2 separate regions of the Homo sapiens genome follow, and region 1 is linked to region 2. The links come from fine-mapping of genetic effects on gene expression. A gene starts in region 2. The other region holds a variant in brackets. All regions are shown on one strand. Distances are between the middles of the regions. Region 1 overlaps SIGLEC9 (sialic acid binding Ig like lectin 9). Region 2 holds the start of KLK10 (kallikrein related peptidase 10).

Region 1 (4,380 bases), 110 kb before region 2:
CCAGATGATCCTGTGCCCCTTTGGAAACGTTTCTCATTCCCTGGGTTTGGCTTTAGAGGAGGGAGATCATGAGCTGCTGCTTCACTCTCTCCCTCAGCTCAACCCAGAAGTCCAATCCTTGAACTCCATTTTCAAAGACAGAGACAGAAGAAGGCCCAGGAGGAGGGCGTTCTAGGAGGAGGGTCCCCAGTGTGCAAGGACTGAGGTATGAACCAACAGGGCATGTTGCAAATGATTTGGAAAAGACCAGAGGGACCAGTGGGTTAAGTGGTGAAGATGGAGGAGTGGACTGAAGTGGGAGAGTGATGTCACGAAGAGGATGTGATGGGAGGTTCAGGATCCAGGAGCCATGGATGGGCTGTGAGCAGTGCGGAGAGAGCTCAGTGTGTCCTAAAGATTCCCACTGGACTGTGCACAATACGTAGACTGCAGAGAGTAAGGCGGCCTAGCAGTCACAGGGTGGGCAGATGAGGCTGAAGAGGTGGGCAGGATCCAGATGCTACCTAGACCTGATTTGCAGGCTGAGGTTATTTCCTGGAAAGTTGCAGAATCGCTATTTTGCAGGCAAGTGACACAGACATATAAGTACTAGTTGCCACCAGAATCAGGAGAGGTTCCCAGCAGGACCTTTGTGTTCAAAGCACAGCGATCCATCAGTGCTCGGCATACACCTGTGCCAGGAGCTCTAACGGGATGTGACTCCTGGAATGGTGACCACAACCTTGCAAGTAGGGCTTCTCATTCCTGTTTTACAGAGCAGGAAACCAAGGTACAGAGAGGTAGGAATTTGTCTGTCTTTTAGTTAAAAAAATAAAAGGGAGGGCACAGTGTGGATTCAGGTTTGAGATACTTTGACTCTAAAGCCTGTGTGCTTTTCACTCTGCACATAATTCATAGTGTTATCATAGCTCATCACGTTGAGGGCTGTTAATTCTACAAGAATCAGCCTCTGACTTCTCCCTTGCCTGGAGGGGCTGTGATCCCTCAATCAGGGTGAGTCTCTGCAGTTTCTCATCTGTGGATCTTGATCTCCGAGTACTCGGTGTCAGTGGCCTCCTGTCCCCGCGAGTCCCAAGGCTTCACCATCTGGAAGCTGAGGGATGCATACTGGAGCTCTCCTTCCCCCACTGAGGAGCGGGCAGAAGCTGGGGGAGGCTGGTCTGGGGGACTGTCTTCTGCCCAAGGTTCAGTCAGGGGCCCCTGAGACATGGGAGAGAGAAGTGAGTCAGAGCAGACAGTGAGGATGGGGCGCGGTGGCTCACATCTGTAATCCCAGCTCTTCAGGAGGCTGAGGTAGGCGGATCACCTGAGGTCAGGAGTTTGAGACCAGCCTGGCCAACATGGTGAAACCCTGTCTCTACTAAAAATACAAAATTAGCCAGGTGTGGTGGTGTGCACCTTTAATCCCAGCTACTCAGGAGGCTGAGGCAGGAGAATCGCTTGAACCTAGGAGGCAGAGGTTGCAGTAAGCCAAGATTGTGCCACTGCACTACATCCTGGGTGACAGAGCGAGACTCCATCTCAAAAAACAAAAACAAACAAACGAAAAAATGCACTTGAGGCAACAGCCTCACTCACTTCACCCTTGTTCTTGCCCTAGTGGAGAGGTAGGTGCTTAAAAGGTCAGAATGTGGCCGGTCACAGTGGCTCACGCCTGTAATCCCAGCACTTCGGGAAGCCAAGGTGGGCAGATCACAAGGTCAGGAGA[C/T]TGAGACCATCCTGGCTAACACAGTGAAACCCCGTCTCTACTAAAAATACAAAAAAATTAGCTGGGCGTGGTGGCAGGCGCCTGTAGTCCCAGCTACTCCGGAGGCTGAGGCAGGAGAATGGCTTGAACCCGGAAGGTGGAAGTTGCAGTGAGCAGAGATCGCACCACTGCACTCCAGCCTGGGCGACAGAGCAAGACTCTGTCTCAAAAACAACAACAACAAAAAAAAAAAAAAACAAAAAAAGTCAGAATGTGCACTGCTGCAGGCTATAGAGTTTGGGATTTTTACTCTAGATCAGGGGTTGTCAAACTACAGTATCTGAGTCATATCCAGCCCACTCTTTATGTTTGTGAATAGTTTTATTGGCACACAGCCATATTCATTTGTTTACACAGGGTATATGGCTTCTTTCTTGCTACAACAGCAGATTTGAGGAGCTGCAATGAGACTGTGTGGCCCATGAAGCCGAAAATAGTTTCTATCTGTCCCTGACAGATAGTATTTGCTGGCTTCTGCTCTAAACGGTATTGAGGGGTGGGGGAACAGCTGTTCAAATGCAGAGGAACTGGACGATGATGTCTTCTGGACAGTCCCCCCAGGCAGGAAAGGAGAGGAGACAGGCAGACAGGTGAGGGAACAAAAGACAGAGATCCTCAGGCCTCAGCAATGAAGGGTCAGGATAGGGAGCAGAGACAATAAAAGCTGTTCTTAGGGGAGGAAACCAACCAAACATTGTGATTTGGGGCTACAGAGAAGAAAGGAAGAACAGAGAGGAGGTAACTTTGGCTACGCCCAGCTGATTAGTCCTGGGGGTCATCCTGTGGGAGGTGTCCAGGCTACATGCTGGCTGTGGAGAGTCCACATCACTCACCTGAGAGGCTGAACCCCTGACAGCGTTTGCATCCTCTATGCCCGTATCTCCCACGCCCGCTGCTGGCCTTGCCGATTTCTTCCTGCAGGACCTCACTCTGAGTGAAGAGACCAGAGAGCCTTTCAGTGTGGTCAGATTGGGGTGCGGTGGGCAGACCAGGTACCCCCATGTGTTTCCTATTAAGGGACTGCAGGGGTGACTGAGGTGGGAAAGCAGTGGTCCAGTCTTAGAGACCCCAAGGTTGAGAACAGAGGCTCTCTTCTCCTGGACAGTGGGTACCAAGGTTTGCCACAGACTCAAAGCTCCTCAAACACAGGCCCACATGGAATTCTCACCATGCACCTGTGACCTCCTTCTTGCCCCAAGCTCTTGACCCATCCAGGTCCCTCCAGCTCTGGCTTCAGGGATCCAGCTTCCAGCCTGTCCTCCCCCAGGGCTCTCCCTCCCTCCCTCTCTAGGGTCCATGCTTACACAACGAAGATGACGCAGAAGGACAGGAAGACCAGGGCTGTGGCTCCAGCTCCCCCGACCACCCCCTGAGTCACTCCTGATGTGGCTTTGCCTGTTGACAGATGGGAGTTATTTTTGTGATATATCATAGAGAATTGGGTCTCTTCTCCTCCCACTTCCTGTAGGGTCCTAGACTTCTATTTCCACTTCCCCTTTCCAGACACAAAGAACAGGAATGAGAGAGAGCAGGACATGGAGAGACTCTTCCTGAGGCCAGTGAGGCGTGCAAGTGCCAGCCATTCCTTTTGGGGTTTTTTTTCACAATTTTAATATTTTATCCATTAATGAATTTGTTTTGCATTCAATTTTTACTTTTTTTAAAAGATTATTGCATTGCAATATGATTTCATTTGATTGCTGACTTGCTGGGCTTTTTCTTTTTTTTAATTTGATGCTCAAAGCAAGTATCTCAGTTGTGTGACTCCAGTTCAGCCCTGCAAAGAAAGGCGCTTGTCTCCCTAAACACACCTGTCCGGCCCCATCCTGTCCCCTCTGAGATCCACTCCTGCCCTCTCCCCACCCCACAACCCTTCCCTGGCAGGAAGAGGACAGTGGTGCTGTGGGTCCCAGGGAAGTTCCAGACCTCACAGCTGAGCACAGACCAGAGCGGAGCTCCTCTCTGAAGGTCCACGCTCAGCAGTTACTAAGGGTGGAGGAGGTGTGTTCTCCTCTCCAGCCCCTCCCCAGCATACTGGTGCACTCACTCTGCAGGGAGACGTTCAGGTAGACCTGCTGAGAGCCGAGAGGGTTCTGAGCTCTGCAGGTGAATTCAGCTGCATCCCTCAGGTGCACCCAAGGCAGCTCCAGCACCCCCGGGTTTGAGGGCTGTGAGGGGCACAGGGTCAGGCCTCTCCAGCTCAGGCTCAGCCTGGCAGGGGGATTGCTGTCAACTGCATCAACTGCACAGACCAGGCGCAGAGACTGGCCCTCTGGGAGTGACAGAGATGAGCCATTTCCCAAGACTGTGGATACTGTAGAAAAAGAGACAGAGGGTCAGAGAGATACATAGATCTGGAGAAAAAGGAAGGATACAGAAAGAGACTGATGACAGCAACTGACACACAGACATAGACTGAAGTTCTGGAAACACACACTTTCACCACTCACTGCTGGGAATGTAAACTTCTCCCCGCTTCATCGAGAACAGTTTGGGCTTATCTTTCAAAATAAGAAAGAACATATAATGTAGCTACATTTTGCTTTTAGGAACTTAACCCACAGGCTTAGATATTCCTGTGGAAGTAGATACAAGATTGTTCTATCCTGCCGTAGGATGAAATTAGTGCCGTG
Region 2 (4,380 bases):
AGTAGCTGGGACTACAGGCACATGCCACGAAGCCCAGCTAATTTTTGTATTTTTCGTAGAGACAGAGGTCTCAGTATGTTGCCCCGGCTAGTCTCAAACTCCTGGGCTCAAGCAGTCTGTCCTCCTCAGCCTCCAAAAGTGGTGAGATTACAGGCATGAGTCGCTGTGCCTGGCCTCCAAGCACTTTCAAATGTATCAACTTAATCCTCACAAAACCCTGTGAGGTCGGTACTGTTTTCATACCTATTTTATAGTTGAAGAAACAGACACAGAGAAGCAAAGTCACTTGCTCACAGTCACGTGGCTAGGAGAGCAAGGATCTGAAGCAAGGCGATCTCTTAATTACCAAGTGATGTTCCTGGAGTAAGGCTCTGTTTGTTTCCTTTCCTGTAAAATGCTGCATGCAAAAGTATAACACAGTAAGTAAAGAAGTCAGTTAGCCTGCACATACTAAGACCTAACCAAAGGAGCTTATTGTTTTTCTCCAACTTCCATGATAGGTAATTAGATAGTGGAGACCTCTGCTGGCCAATATGGTAGCCACTAACCGCAGCTGGCTCTTCCAATTAAAATTACATAAAGCCAGAAATGTAACTCCTCTGTCTCACTTGTTATATCTCCAAGGCTGGATAGCCACATGTGACTGGTGGTGGCTGGATTAGCTAGTGCATATAAAACATCACTGCAGAAAGTTCAGCTGAGCAGCACTGAGTTAGATGGCCTCTGAAGAGGATGTCCCACGGAGAGAATCCAGAACTCAGGATCTTTTTTTTTTTTTTTCTTTGCGACAGAGTCTTGCTCTGTCACCCAGGCTGGAGTGCAGTGGCGTGATCTCGGCTCACTGCAACTTCTGCCTCCCAGGTTCAAGCAATTCTCCTGCCTCAGCCTCCCTAGTAGCTGGGACTACAGGCCTGTGCCAACATCCCCAGCTAATTTTTGTGTCTTTTTAGTAGAGATGGGGTTTCACTATGTTGGCCAGGCTGGTCTCGAACTCCTGACCTCGTGATCCGCCCCCCCTTGGCCTCCCAAAGTGCTGGGATTACAGGCGTGAGCCACCGCGCCCGGCCAGCTCAGGATCTTTTGGGATGGTCTGTTCACCTCGCAGAAGTGGCTGGCATGAGCAATAGGAGCCCAGAGTGGAACCAGGGCCTTCTGGTTGTCAAGTGGACTTGCTGTGTGACCTCCTGTGAGTCTCTGCCCTCTCTGAGCCTCTCACTCCTCACCTGAGATGAGGGAGTTGGCTGAGGTGATGCCGATGCCCCTCACAGCTTTGACCTCCTATGATTCAGGGGCCTGTGTGTCACCTGGTGGCACACAGATGGCAGGGAGGGTGTGAGATGGCCACACATGGGTATGAGGCAGAGCCACAGCCCCCCCCAACACGCACATGGGCTAGTCACTGGGACACACACAGAGCTCACTCACGGCCACAGAGTGGGCGTGGGTTTCCCTTTTTCCTTGTTTCTGTTTCTCTTAGCCTCGGCGCCTCCCTCCCTCCCTCTCTCTCTCTCTCTCTCTCTCTCTCTCTCTCTCTCTGGCTCTTTTAGCCTTGGTTTGTTACAATCTCCCTTTTCAAGCCAGCCTCTGTCCCTCCTACTCAACCTGCTTTATCTCTAGGCCTTCCTCCTTCCTCTTCCACAGTCTGGCTTCTCACATTGTCACTCTAGGTATGCACTTCCCATTGATTTCCTCTTGCTCAGTGGCCTCTCATCCTGCCACCCCTAGCCTTGCTGGGGACGTGAACCCTCTCCCCGCGCCTGGGAAGCCTTCTTGGCACCGGGACCCGGAGAATCCCCACGGAAGCCAGTTCCAAAAGGGATGAAAAGGGGGCGTTTCGGGCACTGGGAGAAGCCTGTATTCCAGGGCCCCTCCCAGAGCAGGAATCTGGGACCCAGGAGTGCCAGCCTCACCCACGGTACAATTAGACAGAGGGAAAGGGAGGGAGCCCGGGGGTGGGGGTAGGGGAGGGTGGAGAAGCTTCCGGACTCCTTGGGGTTAAAAGGGAAGGTCCCGCCAGGGGTCCCTGGGCAGAGGATACCAGCGGCAGACCACAGGCAGGGCAGAGGCACGTCTGGGTCCCCTCCCTCCTTCCTATCGGCGACTCCCAGGTGAAGCTACCTGCACCCCACCCGGGTTGGGGTGGATTGCGAGAGGATGGGTGGGGACCCCCGGGCCACAGGCAGGAGCCGGCTTAGAGCCTCGGTTTCTCCACCTGCGGGACGCGGAAGTCCCCCCGCTGTGAGGTTGAGAAAGAGGCTCCCACTGGCTCCGAGCCTCGGATCCCCACCCCGCGCGTGAAGGAGGGGGAAACCTCGGGCGCGGCGTGGCTGCAGCCAGGGTAGCTGGGGCGCGGAGAGCGCTCCACTCGGGCACAGGGAGGACGGGAAGATGCCGCGAGGGGCGTCATTAGGGTAATTGTGCCCATTACCGCTGTTCCAGCCCGAATCTCCCGTCTGCCAGCCCCTGGGGTTATCGGCTGCAGGTCAAAAGGGTGCTTGCGGGCTGGGGTGGCCCAGGCTGGGCGGATGAGCGCGGCGAGGTGGGGGTCTCTAACGGAGCATCTGTTTTAACCCGCCCCTGCACACACCCCAGCAGATCCTGGCCATGAGAGCTCCGCACCTCCACCTCTCCGCCGCCTCTGGCGCCCGGGCTCTGGCGAAGCTGCTGCCGCTGCTGATGGCGCAACTCTGGGGTAAGGTCGGGGGCAGGGGGCGGGGAGAGGCGCCGGTGGGAGGCACGGGCGGGAGGAGAATGTGTTCCCGTCACCAAGCCCCGCGCACCTCTCCTCCCCCGAGACCCCAGCACCCACCCAGCGCTCCGGAGCACGGCCCGCCCCCAAGTCAGCTGGGCCCTTCTTCTGGCTCGGCCCCTGGGTGACCCGCCCCACTCAGGCCCTGTCCGATTTCTGCCACCCGGATCCTCGCTCTTCCGTGGACTCTTCGCCGCGTTCTTTCTCCTCCTCTTACGCCGCCCCATCCCGGCCCCGCTCCATTTTACACTACCGTGTTTTGTTTTGTTTGTTTGTTTGTTTGAGACGGAGTCTCGCTCTGTCGCCCAGGCTGGAGTGCAGTGACGCGATCTCGGCTCACTGCAAGCTCCGCCTCCCGGGTTCACACCATTCTCCTGCCTCAGCCTCCCGAGTAGCTGGGACTACAGGCGCCCGCCACCAAGCCCGGCTAGTTTTTTGTATTTTTAGTAGAGATGGGATTTCACCGTGGTCTCGATCTCCTGGCCTCGTGATCCGCCTGCCTCGGCCTCCCAAAGTGCTGGGATTACAAGCGTGAGCCACCGCTCCCGGCCACACCACCGTGTTTTATCCTGAGTCTTGCCTTACCGCTTTTTGCCCTCTCCCCTCACTTTTTTTCTTCCTCTTTCCCTTTCTCTCTCTTTTTTCTTTTTCTTTCTTTCTTTTCTTTCTTTCGTTCTTCTTTTCCTTCCTTCCTTTCCTTCCTTCCTTTCGTTTGTTTCTTCTTTCTTGTTTTACTTTCTCTCTTATTTTTTCTTCTTTCTTTCTTGTTTTTTTCTTTCTCTCTCTTTTTCTTTCCTTCTTTTTTTTTTTTTTTTTTTTTTGAGACAGGGCAGTGCTCTGTCTCCGTGGCTGGAGTACAGTGGCCCAATCAGAGCTCACTGCAGCCTCGACCTCCTGGGCTCAAGCGATACTCAGCCTCCAGAGTAGCTGGTACCACAGGCATGCACCACCACATCCGGCTTTTTTTTTTTTTTTTTTTTTTTTTGAGACAGGGTCTCACTCTGTCGCCCAGACTGGAGTGCAGTGGCCCAATCTCGGCTCATTGCAACCTCCACCTCCTGGGCTCAAGCGATCCTCCCACCTCAGCCTCCCAGGTAGCTGTGACTACAGGCGCATGCCTCCGCGACTACTTTTTTGTTGTTGTTGTTGTTGTTTGTTTGTTTTTGTAGAGACTGGGTCTTGCTGTGTTGCCCGGGCTGGTCTTGAATTCCCGAGCTCAAGCGGTCCAACCGCCTCGGCTTCCCAAAGTGCTGGGATTACAGGCGTAAACCACTGCGCCCCACCCCTCTCCTGGTTTTCAATCCCGTTTTGTTATTCACACCCCTTCCTCTCCCCGATCCCCGAGTTCTATCCCCGCACCCTTACCTCCCCGCCGCGTTCAATCCCCGCCCCTCTATCGACCAGCGACGTTCTAGCCAGCTCTCCAGGCGCGCTGCGTTCAGTCCCTGCCCTCCAGACCCACCCTATTCTGTCTCATTACTCCACGCTACCCTATCCCAGCTTCCTTCCACTTTCACGCGCTTCTTCTCCTCCCATTCCCTTCGGTGCACGCGAAACCCCCAATATTTCCCTACCACCCTCGCGTTCTGGCTGCGTCCCCCGTCCCCGAACGCAGTCCAGTGCCACAGCCC

Evidence for each region. PIP is the estimated chance that this variant, and not a neighbour inherited with it, causes the effect. A credible set is the group of variants that fine-mapping cannot tell apart.
Region 1: its variant is the best candidate, but not a certain one, in a credible set for the expression of KLK10 in lung (TOPMed, PIP 0.89).

What each region holds. Positions count from the first base shown.
Region 1 is chr19:51,126,711-51,131,090 of GRCh38, reverse strand. SIGLEC9 (sialic acid binding Ig like lectin 9) reads right to left here. Exons shown (of 7, transcript NM_014441.3): 4 at 3,795-4,061; 5 at 3,052-3,142; 6 at 2,581-2,677; 7 at 781-1,200. The coding sequence ends at 1,012. Among named protein-coding and RNA genes, the nearest start is that of SIGLEC9, 4.0 kb to the right of the region's middle. RefSeq lists an enhancer at 2,115-2,164. The variant C/T (reference allele first, on the strand shown) is at 1,709.
Region 2 is chr19:51,017,355-51,021,734 of GRCh38, reverse strand. KLK10 (kallikrein related peptidase 10) reads left to right here and starts at 2,026. Exons shown (of 6, transcript NM_145888.3): 1 at 2,026-2,108; 2 at 2,596-2,692. The coding sequence starts at 2,605.